2 separate regions of the Homo sapiens genome follow, and region 1 is linked to region 2. Evidence: fine-mapped expression QTL. A gene starts in region 2. The other region holds a variant in brackets. All regions are shown on one strand. Distances are from middle to middle.

Region 1 (2,906 bases), 290 kb before region 2:
TTGAGTATCACTGACAAAGCCAGAACAGGATGAAAATGTGCCCGGGAGGCCCCAGAAATTCTGTTGTTGAAGCTTTCCTATTGGCCAGGGATGCTCTCTCCAAAAAACTGTATTAGACATGTAATCTCACTCTTTTGTCATAAACAGTTTCTAAATAAATGCACAGAATAAAAAAGACGTGATACCTTAAAAAATTTACGTTAGACGCATTATTTTACATCAGAATCCTCTATCAAAGCACTTTTTAAAAGTACACATATTGGCCAGGCGCGGGGGCTCATGACTGTAATCCCAGCACTTTGGGAGGCCGAGGTGGGCAGATCACCTGAGGTCAGGAGTTTGAGACCAACCTGGCCAATATGGTGAAACCCTGTCTCTACTAAAAATACAAAAATTAGCTGGGCATGGTGGCGCGTGCCTATAGCCCCAGCTACTCGGGGAGGCTGAGGCAGAAGGATGGCTTGAACCCGGGAGGTGGAGATTGCATCACAGCACTCCAGCAGACAGAGCAGGACCCTGTCTCAAAAAACAAAACAAAAACAAAAACAAACAAAAATGTGCATTTATTCATGGCTCCCAGTCTTACACGAGCATATTTGACAGAAGTCTCCAGAAAGTCCCACAGGGCCGACCAGGCAGTGATTCTGCTTCCTGTGGCAGTTCTATTTCTCATTCTACACTTATAAATTGGCACTCTGATTACGAATTGGCTGCCCAGGCAGCTTGATACCAGGCAGAGAAGCGGCTGGCTTTGCCTGGTGAGAGAATGCTGGCCCCTGTGACAACGTTGGTCCTGCAGTCATCTGTTGAAAATGAACAAATCTGCATTCTGGCTTTCTGCATTCAGGATGAGAGCTCGGACAACATGGGTCTGTCCACAAGCTCCAGTCCTCCAAGTCCAACATTGAGACCAAGGCCGCTCTGTGGGCCAACGCTGCCTCTCCTTCTTGGAATGTGTAGCCCCTCCCTCCATCCTGACCTCCAGGGGCTGTTGAGACTCTCAGGAGTGACCGACAGGAACCTGAAATGTGGAGCCTGTTGAGATAAAAGGAGGCTCTGCAGAACTTCATGGCAGAAGGGTAGTTAGTTTCTACTTCAGGTGTAGATTCTTTTTTATTTTTATTTTTTTGAGACGGAGTCTTGCTCTGTCACCCAGGCTGGAGTGCAGTGGCCTGATCTCGGCTCACTGCAAGCTCCGCCTCCCGGGTTCACGCTATTCTCCTGCCTCAGCCTCCCGAGTAGCTGGGAC[C/A]ACAGGCACCTGCCACCGCGCCTGACTAATTTTTTGTATTTTTAGTAGAGACGAGGTTTCACCGTGGTCTTGATCTCCCGACCTCATGATCCGCCTGCCTCGGCCTCCCAAAGTGCTGGGATTACAGGTGTGAGCCACTGCGCCCAGCCCAGGTGTAGATTCTTGACTCAGGTCGTGGGTGGGATCTGCCCAGTTCAGCTGTCTGTGAATATTTAAGGTGGTTGGGGGTCACTGCGTGGGCCTCTATGATGCCAACAAAGGACTCCCCTGGGATGGCCTGCAGCCCCCTCTGTGATGAACTTCAATGATTCACCCCACAAAGTCAGAGGCAAAATTTCCAAAAAGTATGTTGTGAGATTACTCCCCAGTTCTTTGTCCCCAAGGAGTTGTTGCTACTTTAAGGCAGGCCTGGGTGAGCAGACCCTGATCCAGGCTGGATCTGCCTCTGGGTCCCACTGCTTGTTCCCCTTGACACTTTGGGCTCTTCTTCCAACTCCACTGGCTTCAGCCCCTGCACAGAGCCCCTTCAAGCATTCCATTGCTGTCCACCGGCTCTCCTGAAGGGCTTGCTTACTCCTTGGGCCACCATCTGCAAGCTCAGTGCCCGGCCACCTCCTCTGGTCCCTATTCTGTGACCCCACAAGACAGGGAAAGACACTCACTGCTCAGAGCAGAATGGAAGATGGACTCCCCACTTGTGGCACATGATGGCACTTCTTATTTAAGACCCTCGAGCAACCTACCTCACTCAACACAAAACTCTTCCTGCTCTTTATGACGTTGCTTTGTAAATTGTAGATCACCGGGCAAAAGAGAGAGATGATGATGGGAAGACATTCTGGATAAAGGGAGCATCCTGAGTGCCCTGGCAATCATCCTCAGCTGTTCCTGGAGTGGCCATCACCCTACACAAAGCAGCTTCTCCTTCAGGGCCAGCCGTGGACTTCTCTGCCCAGTGCAAGCTGCCCTCGGCTCCTTCTAAGGCCTCTCCTGTCCAGTGCCATTGCTGCTACATCCATTTCCCACCTCTCGCTTTCCCTCCAGGTGCGCACCTTTTGACACAGGCAGTGCTCAGCTCTGGCTCTTTGGAGCTGATCCCACTGTTTCGAGGTCCTCATGTTTATTTTAGGCTGCCACAGATCAACTTCTGGACCAAGAACCCAAGGGGTCCAGGTAGTTACACTGAATTACATACTTTACAGACTCAGGTCACCAAGCCATGATCCACTTAAAATATGTGAACTCTACTTTTCCTTAAAAGCATTACTTGGTAGCATGGGGAAAAAACCATGCTCTCAGGAACCAGAGGGGTCAAGCACTCTCCTTTGCCCCAACTCCAGGAATTTAATGAAGTATCAAGTCCTGTCAGTTCTTTGGCTGAAATTTTTCTGGAATCATCCACATCTTTCTGTCTCCTTGGCCACTGCCCTGGCCTGGACTCTAGTGCCCTGTCCCGCCCTGTGGGGACAGCCCCCCCTCTCGTCTCCTTGGCTCTGTCGTGCCACCATCCAGTTTGTTCTCTGCTGGAGAGACAGAGGACACTTTTTGAAGCATGCATTTGATAAGGCCACTTTTGTCTCTTGTCCTCAGATAAGATCAAAACTCTTTTGCGTGGCTTATAAGGTGCCTGCCTACCCCCTGGCCTGTTGCAGCCCTC
Region 2 (2,906 bases):
TATTTATATGTGCCAGGCACTGTGCTAACTTCTTTATAGATGTTGCTTCATTTAATTCTCACAGTAATCCTATGAGTTAGGTACTATCAGTTTTTGTGTGTGGGGGGGGCGGGATGGGGTGGATGGCAGAGTTTCACTCTTGTCATCCAGGCTGGAGTGCAACGGCTCGATCTCGGCTCACTGCAACCTCTCCCTCCCAGGTTCAAGCCATTCTCCTGCCTCAGCCTCCCGAGTAGCTGGGATTACAGTCCCGCATCATTAGACTCCGCTAATTTTTGTATTTTTAGTAGAAACGGGGTTTCACCATGTTGGCCAGGCTGATCTCGAACTTCTGATCTCCACCTGCCTCAGCCTCCCAAAGTGCTGGGATTACAGGCGTGAACCACCGCGCCTGGCCTACTACCAGTTTTTAAATTTTACAGGTGAGGAAACTGAGCTATAGAGGGGCTAAGTTACCCCAAGTTCACACACCTGAGAAGCGGTTTAGGACCCGAGCCCAGGTTTGAGCTATTAACTGCACTTCACTGACGCAAAAATGGATGCATTCATTTACTCATTCATCCAACATGCATTTGATGTTGGTAACCAGTTAATATCTGAAAGCTGGGGGATATAAACTGAACATAGAGTCCCATCTCCATCCTCAGGAAACTCATGCCCTCCGGTGATGGGGGGCAGGACAAATAGCAGAGAGACCGCCTTATTTTACAAGATGTCATTGTTCTCTGAGAGGCTGAAAAGATTTTCTATCACCACTAGCCTCCTCCTCTCCACGGCCATTTACAGAATGGGCAAACCAGCCTCCCAGCGGAAGACCAAGCTTGCTAGCGGTCAACGTTGCCGGCAGCTCTGCAAGCGCTTCCAGCGGGCGTCGCTCTCCTTTCGGGGGTGGTACTTTCATTCGGTCATCCTGTGAGTGTTCCACTTCCCGACGGAGGCCGAGCACTCACACCGCGGCGGAGGTACCCGTCACCGCAGAACCGGGTGGCTGGCTCTCCTCCAGGGAGAAAGCCTGTCACTTATTCCTCAACACTGTTGGGAAGTTACCTAGAAAAGTACAGACAGAAGACCTAGGCTTGCGTTTTAGAATCGTGGAGTGTTAGCGCTGGCCAAATCGTTGGACACAATGTAAGCTTGATCAGGAAAATGAGCTCCAGGGTCTCACAGGCGGGGCCTGGAATCTTGGCGCAATCTGCGACCCTCACTGCCTCCTACAGTCGGGGCTGAGCGTTCTTTCAAACAGCCAAAGTAATCACTTAAGTCCAGCAATGATCTCCTTGGAGAAATCAAAAGATCCTCCCTAAGAGACGGCCTTGGAGGGCATCGCCCCTGGGGCTGGGCACAGCACGTCTTCCCGGCCCCGGCGCGGGAGGAGGGTTTGGGGACAGCGGCCGCACTCCGGACCCTTCTTCAGATTGCACAGGAGGAGGCGGTAGCGGAACCTTTCTCCTCCGCCTGGTTCTCGCTTCCACCCGGGCCCAGTTGGGGACGGACGCACTAGAGGCGACCTAAACATGGAGACAGCGGGCGCTGCAACTGGGCAGCCGGCCTCTGGGCTGGAGGCTCCGGGGTCCACGAATGACCGGCTTTTCCTGGTTAAAGGTAAGATGTGCTGTGGTGAGGTGCGGGCGTCGGGGTGAGTTAACCCCGGACCCTGGCTTGCTCTGGAGCGGGCATTCCCACACACATCCCGCTCTGAGAGCCCTTAGCTTGTGCTTGCCCCTGAGTTTAGCCCGCGGAGTCTGGCGGCCCAGGGAGGGTAGGTCGCTTACTGGGTGGAGTCTCCCCTTGGGCGGGGCGGGGGGCAGATCCCGCGAGCTATTCTCCCGGGCGTGCCATATTTCCCCGTCACCTCTGCAATTGTTCTAGAGCCTTGCCTTTTCTGATTGCCATCGTCTCTTCTCCTCCCCGTGAGAAACTTCACGCTGTGGTCCCAGGGGAGAGGGGAAGGGAAGCTGAACCTTTTCTCTGCGCTCGGGAATAATAATTCGGAATGACCCAAGGAACCAGAGGTCGTGCGGTCACGCGTGTTTCTCAGCCGCTGTCATTTACTGTTAGCAAGAGCTGCTTAGCCATGGTTTCTTGAATTTCAAAAGTGATTTTGATTGTAACTCGAATAGTATCTTAAACTTACTTTTGTACATCTTTTTAACCTCTTTTTATTTAATTTTTTTTAATATCCCCCCTCCTCCCCGAAACTCTTGGCAGGTGGAATTTTCCTTGGTACCGTTGCTGCAGCGGGAATGCTAGCTGGATTTATTACAACATTATCATTGGCTAAAAAGAAAAGCCCTGAATGGTTCAATAAGGTTGGTGACACTGAAATCCATTCATAGCATTGTTATTGTTTACAATATATGGCAGCTTTTGCGTAGAAAAAATAAAATATTGATGGTCTTTCACATTGCTTTAAGATGTGAATTTATATACGCTCATGGATTCTAGAAATGTACAAATTAACCAAGTCTTTATTTTCATTTAGAAGGATGTACTTATGTGCTTTCTTAAATTTTAGCGGAACAAGACTTTGAAAGCTTATCTGGTACATTTCCTATTCACAACATGACTTTGAATCTAAATTTGGGCCAGGCATCGTGGTTCATGCCTGTAATCCCAGCACTTTGGGAAGCCGAGAGGGGCAGATCACCTGAGGTCAGGAGTTTGAGACCAGCCTGGCCAACATGGCGAAAACCCATCTCTACTAAAAATACAAAAATGAGCCAGGTGTGGTGTGGCACTCCTGTAGTCCTAGCTACTCGGGAGGCTGAGGCAGGAGAATCACTTGAACCCAGGAGGCTGAGGTTGTAGTGAGCCCAGATAACACCACTGCACTTCAACCTGGGTGACAGAGCGAGACTCTGTCTCAAAAATAAATAAATAAATATTCACACAAATAACTGTGTAAT

Which allele goes with the higher level. Alleles are on the strand shown, and positions count from the first base shown. SD is a standard deviation of normalised expression in the study named.
For the expression in B cells of the gene that starts at base 1,495 in region 2, allele C in region 1 goes with a lower level than allele A (small effect, 0.35 SD a copy in Fairfax 2012).

The links. PIP is the estimated chance that this variant, and not a neighbour inherited with it, causes the effect.
Region 1: its variant is the best candidate, but not a certain one, in a credible set for the expression of TMEM242 in B cells (Fairfax 2012, PIP 0.87).

The regions. Positions count from the first base shown.
Region 1 is chr6:157,608,655-157,611,560 of GRCh38, reverse strand. All of the region lies in intron 3 of ZDHHC14 (zDHHC palmitoyltransferase 14), which reads right to left. Among named protein-coding and RNA genes, the nearest start is that of MIR3692, 81 kb to the right of the region's middle. The variant C/A (reference allele first, on the strand shown) is at 1,250.
Region 2 is chr6:157,322,108-157,325,013 of GRCh38, reverse strand. It overlaps TMEM242 (transmembrane protein 242), which reads left to right and starts at 1,495. Exons shown (of 4, transcript NM_018452.6): 1 at 1,495-1,602; 2 at 2,209-2,309. The coding sequence starts at 1,515. TMEM242-DT (TMEM242 divergent transcript) reads right to left here and starts at 1,380. Exons shown (of 1, transcript NR_187268.1): 1 at 537-1,380. RefSeq lists enhancers at 783-1,212, 1,393-1,732.